Homo sapiens: one gene and its partners. The protein of the gene in region 2 purifies or fractionates together with the protein of the main gene of each other region. This does not show direct contact. Each region holds a gene or a part of one and is shown on either strand. Other genes may lie near its edges.

Evidence for each region.
Region 1: the proteins of ATF6B (region 2) and LYRM7 purify together in Homo sapiens (affinity purification with mass spectrometry; 3 studies listed by BioGRID and IntAct, with this or other methods). This does not show direct contact.
Region 3: the proteins of ATF6B (region 2) and RWDD2B purify together in Homo sapiens (affinity purification with mass spectrometry; 3 studies listed by BioGRID and IntAct, with this or other methods). This does not show direct contact.

Annotation. Positions count from the first base shown.
Region 1 is NC_000005.10:131,173,846-131,177,497, forward strand, and holds part of LYRM7 (complex III assembly factor LYRM7), read left to right. Parts: intron 1-3,652.
Region 2 is NC_000006.12:32,121,642-32,125,293, forward strand, and holds part of ATF6B (cyclic AMP-dependent transcription factor ATF-6 beta), read right to left. Parts: intron 1-3,652.
Region 3 is NC_000021.9:29,017,211-29,020,962, reverse strand, and holds the start of RWDD2B (RWD domain-containing protein 2B), read left to right. Parts: upstream 1-1,613; 5' UTR 1,614-1,685; coding exon 1,686-1,752; exon of another isoform or gene 1,753-2,050; intron 2,051-2,715; exon of another isoform or gene 2,716-3,377; intron 3,378-3,752.

The DNA of each region.
Region 1 (3,652 bases), on a different chromosome or scaffold from region 2:
CTTTTTGCTGATGAAAGATCTTGCCTCGATGTTGATGGCTGCTAATTGATCAGATTGGTGGTTGCTAAAGGTTAAGATGACTGTGACAATTTCTTAAAATAGGACTACAGTAAAGTTGACCACATTGATTGACTCTTTCACACACAAAAGATTTATCTGTAGCATGCAATGCTGTTTGATAGCATTTTACCCACAGTAGAGCATCTTTCAAATTGGATTCAATCCTCTCAACCCCAGCCACTACTTTATCAACTGAGTTCATATAATATTCTAAATCCTTTGTTGTTATTTCAACAATGTTTACAGCATCTTCACCAGGGGTGAAGTGATGTGAGTGATGATCTTCATAAACTCAAGAATCCACTTTCTTTGCTCATTCATGAGAAGCAACTCCTCATGCATTTAAGTTTTATCGAGATTGCAGCAATTCAGTCACATCTTAAGGCTCCACTTCTTATCCTAGTTTCACTTGCACTTTCCACGTATCTGCAGTTAATTCCTCCACTGAAGTCTTGAACCCCTCGAAGTCATCCATGAGTGTTCAAATAAGTTTCTTCCAAATGCCTGTTATTGTTGCTATTTTGGCCTCCTCTCTTGAATTCTCTGAATGGCATCTGGAATGGTGAATCCTTCCCAGGAGGTTTTCAATTTACTTTGCCTAAATTCATCAGAGGAATCACTGTCTATGGCAGCTATAGCCTTATGAGTCTTTTAAATAAGACTTAGAAGTCTGGCTCACACCTCTAATCCCAGCACTATGGGAGGCTGAGGTGGGCAGATTGCTTGAGTCAGGAGTTCAAGACCAGCCTGGGCAACATGGCAAAACCTGTCTCTACAAAAAGTACAAAAATTAGCTCAATGTGTGGCATGCGCCTGTGCTCCCAGCAACTTTGGAGGCTGAGGTGGGAGGATCGCTTGAGCCCAGAAGATCGAGACTTCAGTAAGCCATGATCGTACCACTGCACTCGAGCCTGGGTGACAGAACAAGGCCCTGTCTCAAAAAAAAAGGACTTAAAAGCCAAAATTACTACTTGGCCTTGACCTGCGGGGCTGCAAAATGGATGTTGTATTGGCAGTCATGAAAACAATATTAATTTCCTTTTACATCTCCATCAGAGCTCTTGGGTGATGAGGTGTGTTGTCAGTGAGCAGTAATATTTTGAAAGGAATCTTTTTTTTTCTGAGCAGATCTCAACAGTGGGCTTAAAATATCCGCGAACCATGCTTTAAACAGATGCACTTTGTTGATTTGTAGAGCACAGGTAGAGTAGACTTAGCATAATTCTTAAGGGTCCTAGGATTTTGGAATGACAAATTATTGGCTTCAACTCAAAGTCACCAGCTTCAATCTCTTTTTTTTTTTTTTTTTTGGTGATGGAGTTTCGCTATTGTTGGCCAGGGCAGAGTGCAGTGGCGCAATCTCGGCTCACCACAACCCCTGCCTCCCAGGTTCAAGCAATTCCCCTGCCTCAGCCTCCCGAGTAGCTGGGATTGCAGGCATGCACCACCATGCCCGGCTAATTTTGTATTTTTAGTAGAGATGGGGTTTCTCCATGTTGGTCAGGCTGGTCTCAAACTCCTGACCTCAGGTGATCTGCCTGCCTTGACCTCCCAAAGTGCTAGGATTACAGGCATGAGCAACATGAGCAACCACGCTCGGCCTTTTTTGGGTGTGTTTGTTTGTTTTGTTTTGTTTTGTTTTGTTTTGAGACAGGGTCTCACTCTGTCACCCAGCCTGCAGTGCAGTGGTGTCATCTTGGCTCGCCGCAACCTCTGCCTCCCAAGCTCAAGAGATCCTCCCACCTCAGCCTCCCGAGTAGCTAGGACTACAAGCACCCTCCACCACGCCTGGCTAATTTTTTTATTTTTTGTAGATACAGGGTTTGGCCATGTTGCCCAGGCTGGTTTTGTTTTGTTTTGTTTTGTTTTGTTTGAGATGGAATCTCGATGTCACCCAGGCTGGAGTGCAGTGGCACCATCTCGGCTCACTGCAACCTCCACCTCCCAGGTTCAAGCAATTCTCCTGCCTCAACCTCCCAAGTAGCTGGGATTACAGGTGCCCACCACCACACCAGCTAATTTTTTGTATTTTTTAGTAGAGACAGGGTTTCACCATGTTGGCCAGGCTGGTCTTGAACTCCTGTGCTCAAGCGATCCACCCACCTCAGCTTCCCAAAGGGCTGAGATTACAGGCGTGAGCCACTGCATCAGCCTGCGTTAGCTTATTAAGAGCTAATTAAGCTCTTATTAATAAGGATATTTCACATTTTACTTCCCCGTTCATGAGTTCATGGACATTTAGGTTATTTCTACTTTTTCACTATTATGAATAATACTACCATGAACATTAGCATACATGTTTTTGTGTGAACATGTTTTCATTTGTCTTGAGTATATACCTAGTAGTAGAATTTCTGGGTCATAAGATAACTGTAGGTTTAACTTTTTTTAGCAACTGCCAAACTGTTTCCCAAAGCAACTGTACCATTTTAAATGCCAAACAATGTATAAGAGTTCCTATTTTTCCATGTCCTTGTCAACTCTTTTTATTGACTGTCTTTTTTACAGTAGCCATTCTACTGGGATGAAATGGTATCTCATTGAGGTTTAGATTTGTGTTTCCAGATGGCACATGACATTGAACATCTTTTTATGGCTTATTGGCCATTTATGGGTTTTTTTTTTTTTGGAAGAAATATCTATTCAAATTCTTTGACTTTTTATTTTTCTTAATTTTATTTTAGATTCAGAGAGTACATATGCAGGTTTATTACATGGGTAAATTACATAATGGTGAGGTTTGGGCTTCTAGTGAACCCATCACCCAAATAATGAATATTGTACCCAATAGGTAATTTTTCCACCCTCAACCCCTTCCTATCCTCCTCCCTTTTGGCGTCTCCCTTTTGGCGTTCTATCCACAAAGGCGTACCCTTTGCTTAGCACCTACTTATAAGTCAAAATATGCAGTATTTGATTTTCTGTTTCTGAGTTATTTCATTTAGGATAATGGTCTCCAGCAGCTGCTGCAAAGGACATGATTTCATTCTTTTTTAGTATTCTATGATGTATATATACACCACATTTTCTCATTTGTGTCCTATAAAGCAAACAGCTGCCCTCACAGTTCTACTAGCACCTAGTACTTTAACATCTTTGATGTTATTATTGCTATAAAAATTACCCACAGCTGAGCCCTTTAAGTACATTATATGATTGTCTTTTTTCCCATTTCTTCATCTTTAAATTAATAACTGCCTTTTAAAAATTATTACTTTTTAAAAATATCCTTTAATAGATATCCTAGATATCTGTTCCCAAATTCTAGGCAAAACCAGTCTACCAGTTTCATTTTTCCTTGCAATAACTTTCCTGGAGCAATTCAGTCTTTTGCTATAGTCCTGCCTAGTTGCTTTCTAGTCTGGCTGCACAAATGTTGACTAGCATTTGTCCTTCCCCATGGTCTTTGCCTCTCCCATGTTAGACTACCTGTCTCCTGGGTTCCCATGTCTTTTCCTTTTGTGATTCATTTCCTTATTTTGGTGGAGGATATTCTTCTGTAGCTTTCCAATAAAGTGTGTATGACAGATAAGAGACTTTGCATTTCTGAAAATATGTATTTGCCCTTGTCTTTGAGTGATAGTTTGAGTAT
Region 2 (3,652 bases):
AGTGAGCCAAGATCGCGCCATTGCACTCCAGCCTGGGCAAGAAGAGCAAAACTCCATCTCAAAAAAATAAAAAAGAGGGTTAAGATGGGGAAATGGGTCCTTTCTCTTTGAACCTGAAAATAAAACTCTTCTGGCCCTAGATTACAGGCCATCCAGGAGGGGCAGTCACAGAGCTGCTCACCTGCTGGCTCTCCGCCCCGCTTTTCGCCTAGTGCTTCCCTTTCTCCTTTAGTGGCTCCTCTGATTTTTCTCATCCCTGCTCCATGTTCCTCAAAGCTGTCTTTGCCCTTCTGCGTTTCCCTCTTTCTTGTTCACAGAACTTGTCTATTCACATAGAATAGGCCTGAGCAGGGGAAGTGGCAGGGGGGTCTCCAGCATTCACATGGCCCAAATTCCTATCTTGCTGGATTTCCACCTTATCCCTGCCCAATGCATCTCCATGCTGACAACCGCCAAGTGTGCATCTCCCCCTGGCTGCTCACCTGCACCAGATTCTGACTTCCAAGCTGCCTGCTGGTCCCTTCCATTCTCATGCCTCACCAGTCACCCAAATCTAACTGGCCATAAATGAGGCTTCCTGATTGCCCCGTCACACAAGTTTTCCTCCCAGGCACCAAACAGCAAAGCCTCAGTCACCTCTGAGCCTCCATGGCCTCCAATAAATCTGCCTTTATGACTTGTTGATCACTCCATGAAAGAAAATGCTAGGCCCCATGTCGGTGAAATAAAACCCTTCTGAGGGCCAGATTCAGCCCACAGGTCAACAGTCCACCACTACCTCTGGTCCATACCGTTCACTTTGGTACTTAATTATATGATCACTAAGATTGCTTTTTAAAACTTCAATTTATATTTTTGAATAGATAATACAGTCATGATACAAATCCAAACGAACAAAGGAAAATTAAGTCAAAAAAAAAATCTTGGCGGGGCACGGTGGCTCACGCCTGTAATCCCAGCACTTTGGGAGGCCGAGGCAGGTGGATCACGAGGTCAGGAGATCGAGACCATCCTGGCTAACACGGTGAAACCCCGTCTCTACTAAAAAAATAGAAAAATTAGCCAGGCGTGGTGGCGGACGCCTGTAGTCCCAGCAACTTGGGAGACTGAGGGAGGAGAATGGCATGAACCCAGGGGGCGGAGCTTGCAGTGAGCCGAGATTGCGCCACTGCACTCCAGCCTGGGTAGAGCGAGACTCTGTCTCAAAAAAAAAAAAAAAAAAAACTTCCCTTCCCGGTCCTCCAGTCACTCAGATTCCCTACACAGAGATAACCACTATCAGAACTATTTAACCATGGCTGGGCATGGTGGCTCACGCCTGTAATCCCAGCACTTTGGGAGGCCGACACCCAACGCAGGTGGATTGCTTGAAGCCAGGAGTTTGACACCAGCCTGAACAACATGGCAAAACCCTGTCTCTACCAAAAATACAAAAAAATAGCCGGACATGGTGGCACGTGCCTGTAGTCCTAGCTATTAGGGGGGCTGAGGCAGGACAATAGCTTAAACCCAGGAAACGGAGGTTGCAGTGAGTGGAGATCACGCCAATGCACTCTAGCCTGGGTGACAGGGCAAAACTCTGTCTCAAAAAAAAAAAAAAAAAAAAAAAAAAGGGAACTATTTAACCATGATGTATTATAACCCTCACAAAACTCTCCAAAAGCAAGAACTATGTCTCATGTCCATTGAGGGTAAAGTACAGGCCCTCAAAAAATACCTAAGTATGGAGGAGAATCTGACTCTAATAACACTATGCAATGCAAAGCCACCAACAATCCTTACAATCCTTTTGCTGCTAATAGCAGTGGGCGATCTCGGCTCACTGCAAGCTCCGCCTCCCGGGTTCACCCCATTCTCCTGCCTCAGCCTCCCGAGTAGCTGAGACTACAGGTGCCTGCCACCATGCCTGGCTAATTTTTTGTATTTTTAGTAGAGATGGCGCTTCACTGTGTTAGCCCGAATGGTCTTGATCTCCTGACCTCGTGATCTGCCCGCCTTGGCCTCCCAAAGTGCTGGGATTACAGGTGTGAACCACTGTGCCTGGCCTGCTAATGGTATTTCAATCCTTATTTTGTGTATCTTTTTTATAACATGTATTAATCTGCTAGATATAATCTGTTTGTCCCTCCAAATCCACTTTCCATCCCTCCCTGCTGTGCTCCCTGAGATCCAGGGAGAATCTGAATGGACTGCATCAGCGGGCTCCCTGGTTGGAGTTCAGCCAGTGAGAGATGGTGCCAGGAGATCCAGAAGGTACTTTGAAATCAACAATCAACATGTCAACTGGGCATGGTGGCTTACGCCTGTAATCCCAGCACTTTGGGAGCCAAAGTGGGTGGATCACCTGAGGTCGGGAATTCAAGACCAGCCTAACATGAAAGAAGCCCTGTCTCTACTAAAAATACAAAATTAGCCAGGCGTGGTGGAGCATGCCTGTAATCCCAGCTACTCAGGAGGCTGAGGCAGGAGAATCGCTTGAACCCAGGAGGCAGAGATTACAGTGAGCCAAGATCACACCACTATTGCACTCCAGCCTGGGCAACAAGAGTGAAGCTCCATAACAACAACAACAACAGAATCAACATGTCCAACGCTGAATTCATCATCTTCCCTGACCAGAAAGCCCCTGCTTTTGCAGTCTCCATCCAGTGAACAGTAACATCACCCACCCACAGCCATCCTAGCCACAAACCTCTTTGACTCCTACCTCTCTCCAATGTCCAGGAGGTCACAACTCATCTATTCCACTTCATTCTTTCTCAAGTCTGCTTTCTTCATGACATCCGAATATCTTACTTGATCAACTGCATAAGCTTCTTCCTTGGTTCTCTTGCCTCTGGCCCTGCCCCTCTGCAACCCATTCTCTACTTTGCCACTAGAATCATCTTCCTAATCATATTACTTCCCTGCTTAATTCTCCAAAGGCCCCCACCTATCCACAGGATAAAAGCTAAGAGCCCCTTAGCAGGGGCCCCACCTGGCCCTGTAGCCCCTGCAGTTCCACATCACTCCCCAAATCCTTCTTACATCCACTCTGAAGAAATGCAGGGTCCTCAGACACAAGTCAACCCCCACACTGTCCTCCTGGCTAATTTCTACGTGTCCTTTAAAACTCTCAGGAAACCCTTCTTCCAGGGGCACATCCCAGATTCAGCGCCAATGTGGATGAAATGTCCCCTCTTATGAGCTTTCATGGTACCCTCTAGTGATTTTTTTTTTTTTTCCAGACGGAGTCTTGCTCTTTTGCCCAGGATGGAGTGCAGTGGCGTGATCTCGGCTCACTGCAAGCTCCGCCTCCCGGGTTCATGCCATTCTCCTGCCTCAGCCTCCCAAGTAGCTGGGACTACAGGCTAATTTTTTGTATTTTTAGTAGACACGGGGTTTCACCATCTTAGCCAGGATGGTCTCAATCTCCTGACCTCGTGATCCGCCCACCTCGGCCTCCCAAAGTGCTGGGATTACAAGCATGAGCCACCACACCCAGCCCCACCTCTAGTGATTTCTATCCTAGAATGACCACACCTGTATTGACTGGTACTTGTCTTTCTCCCATTACCAAATCACAGGGTTTGAAAGTCAGCATGGTGGTCAGGTCTTGTTCATCTTTGCATTCCCAGCATGCTGCTCAGTATCTGGCATGGAGTAGGTGCTT
Region 3 (3,752 bases), on a different chromosome or scaffold from region 2:
TCCATAGGCGTGTGCATTTAAAAACTGATGTGTATTTAAGGTATGCATTTCATTTTTACCTTAAAAAATCCTTAATTTGAACTCCAATGATGTGCATTAGAGGTACTTAGAAGCGTACTGTCTGCAGTTTACTTTTAAATGTATGAAAACAGATAGATTGATGAGGTATGTGACAAAGCTGGTAGAGTAAAATTCTGTACTCTCCAGGTCAGTGTTTTTCAACCTCAACACTATCAACATTTTGGACCAGCAAATTTGTTGTTGTCGGGGGATGTCCTGTTCATTGTAGGAAGTTGAGGAACATCCCTGTGCTCTACCTACCCCATGCCAATACCATCCTTCCAGTTGTGACAACCCAAAATGTCTTCAGACACTGCTAAATAGAGGGGAAATCCATCCTTCCCCTTCTCTTGAGGTCTGCTCCACTGTAAAATTCTCTCGACTTCGCTTTACACTTGAATTTTTTCATAATAAATGTTGGAGGAAAAAATAAATTATGACATTGAAAAACGCTCATGAAACACTATGCAGAAGACGTAGTTTATGAAGACCTACAATACATACTGTCGTATTTTTGTTTAAAAAAAAAAAGTGGAGGGGAGACCTAGCAGTGATATTTAGTATTGCTAAATGTCAATGTTTACAAATCTTATCTATGACATTTCTAAAATGAATATTATAAAGTGTATTGCATATAGTTGGATTGGGAAGAAAAACATTTCTAATTATTCTCCTGTCAGCATCTCCTTCAAACTACCCTTTTATTAACAGGGATAGATATGCATTCACACGGTTCCTCCCAGCTTGGTTAATGGGCAAGAACACCTAAGATAGCCAAGGCCACCATGCATCCAGGCTCACATCTCCCTAATTGCCCTCCTCCATGATTCAGGGACAAGGAGGATCACCATCGTGTGGGAAGATACTAGAAATGTAGAATTTGGAACCCCACCCCTACCTACGGAATCCTGATCTGCACTTCAACAGGATCCCCGAACTATTCCTAGGCGCGTTCGAATTTGAGGAACATTAACGGACCAATTCTTTGTCCCTGAAAAGTGCCCGTTATAGAGGCGGCCGCTGGGAAATGACAACGGGGTTGGCATGGAGAGGTATTAAGTAGAAAAACTCCGGCCGGGCACGGTGGCTCAGGCCTGTAATCCCAGCACTGTGGGAGGCCGAGGCCGGTGGATCACCTGAGGTCAGGAGTTCGAGACCAGCCTGGCCAACATGGTGAAACCCCATTTCTACTGAAAAATACAAAAATTATCTGGGCATGGTGGTGGGCGCCTGTAATCCCAGCTACTCGGGAGGCTGAGGCAGGAGAATCGCTTGAACCCAGGAGGCGGAGGCTGCAGTGAGCCGAGATCGCGCCACTGCACTCCAGCTTGAGAGACACAGCGAGACTCCGTCTCAAAAAAAAAAAAAAGGAAGAAAGAAAGAAGAAGAAGAGAACTCTGCGACTGAAAAGTACCTAGCAGGGACAACGCATTCCCTACGTCCTTCCAAGTGCAGACACCAACACCGGCGGACGCGGCTCCCAACAGGCGAGCCCCAGCTTCCGGTCCGCGGCCTTGGACGCGCATGCGCCGCATGCTTTTTTTTTTTTTTTCCGGTAGGTCGCCAGCTGAGGCGGTTTGTAAGTTTTGGGTCGCAGTATGCTAGAATTTTGAGGCTCCCTTCTGATGAAAATTGAGCTGTCCATGCAGCCATGGAACCCGGGTTACAGCAGTGAGGGGGCCACGGCTCAAGGTGAGTCTCGCCTCAGCTAGCGCCAGTGGTGACCGCCACGGGGGTTTCCCACGCTGCAGCGCCCAGTGCAACCCTTTGGGAACGTGCCCGGCATGGCGGCCCCGGTTCCCCTCACTGCATGCGCCCATCGGTCGGCTCGGTCCTCGGCGTTGCTTCCCGGCTTCTGCAGCCCTGCTCCAGCCGGGGACCTCGCCCCGGGGGCAATCAGGGTGCGAGGGCGGCTGCGTGCTGGGCTTTCTTCCTGAGAGCGTCTTGGCTTGGGTCGCGGGGTACCCTGCTCTGTTCTTCAAAAAAAAATCTGCAAGGAAAAGATATTATTCCACTCAGAAATCTCAAGTTTCAGTCTGCGTTCTCTTAAATATATTTTATTTTTTAAAAAAATAATAAAGGCGAGCTCTTACTATGTTACCCAGGCTGATCTTGAACTCCTGGGCTCAAGCAGTCCCCCTTCCTCTGCCTCCCAAAGTGCTGGGATTACAGGCGTGAGCAATCGCGCCCGGCCACAGTCTATTATCTTACAGCATTCGCTGAAATCTTGAATCATAAAATTATCTTGAGGGTTTTTTGGAAGGACTGAAATCTCTTAAGCGAAAATAATTTGGCAGATAAATGACCTGTGACATCACTCCCGTAGTTGTCCGTTCAAGAGTCCCTCCGTCCCGTTCTTCTTTGCTAATCCCATTTCATCTTCGATACCTCCAATTCAATAGCACCCTCTCCCAACTTTACTCACTCCCTGGGAGACTTTAAACAAATATATAGTTCCAAATAAGTGTTGACTCCCAAGATTATATATCTAGCTGAGTCTCTCGTAGACTTCAAAACTATACATCTAACTGCCTGCTAGACCTCTCTATTTAACAGGTGTCTTAGTAGGCACTTCATTACTTGTGTCTAAAACCAAGCTTCAGCTCCCCATGACCATCAACGTCTAAATAAATGGCAGATCCATACTTTCAGTACCTTAAAGCCCCGGAGTCATTCTTCCGTGTCTCATGTAATTCATCTGTAAATCCTGTTGCCTCTGTTCTCTGCATGTATCCAGAACCTGAAGCTCACCAACTTGACCACTATAATCCTATCAAAGCCACCATCATCTCTCCCTAGTTATTGCGGTGTCTATATCTGGTCACCCCACTTTTCCTTTCACTTTTCTCCATAGCAGCAAGTGTGGGGATCTTCATAAGTCAAACCTCTCTTGTAGCTCTTACATGTCAGTCGGGATAAAATTCAAAATTCTGGCCATGCTTTACTAGTCCCAACATAAACTGCCCCACATTTCCTTACTAAACTCTTCTATTCCCCGTGTCCTCAGCTCACTGTGCTCTGGCCAGCTGTTCTAGCACCCTCCTTCCTCAAGGCCTTTGAATATGCTGTTCGCTTTCCCTTGAACACTCTTGGCCAAGAAAAACACATGGCCTCCTTTTTCAGTTCCTTAAAGTCTCTTCCCTACAGTCACCTTAGGAGAAAGGCCTTTCCTGACAATGCTGTGTGCAGTCTCACCCCTGCTGCCTCATTGTTTCCCTTATCCTTGTTTTCTTTTTCAGGTTTCTTCATAGCAGTTATTCACTGGGTACAAAAATTCTTTTTTGTTTTTTTTTGAGACAGTCTTGCTCTGTTGCTCTGGCTGGAGTGCAGAGGTATGATCTTAGCTCACTGCAACCTCCGCCTCCCCAGTTCAAGCGATTCTCCTGCCTCAGCCTCCCTAGTAGCTGGGACTACAGGCGTGGGCGACCACACCTGGCTAATTTTTGTATTTTTAGTAGAGATGGGGTTTCATCATGTTGGCCAGGCTGGTCTCAAACTCCTGACCTTAGGTGATCCGCCCACCTCATCCTCCCAAAGTGCTGGGATTACAGGCGTGAGCCACCACCGCACCTGGGCTGGGCGTATAAATTTGTTTTTGATGTCATGGTATCCTCCCACCAGTAGAGTTGTTTTATTACTTTCATTCATTGTTATCTTAGTGCCAGTGCTTGAACGTAAGTGCTTGAGAAACA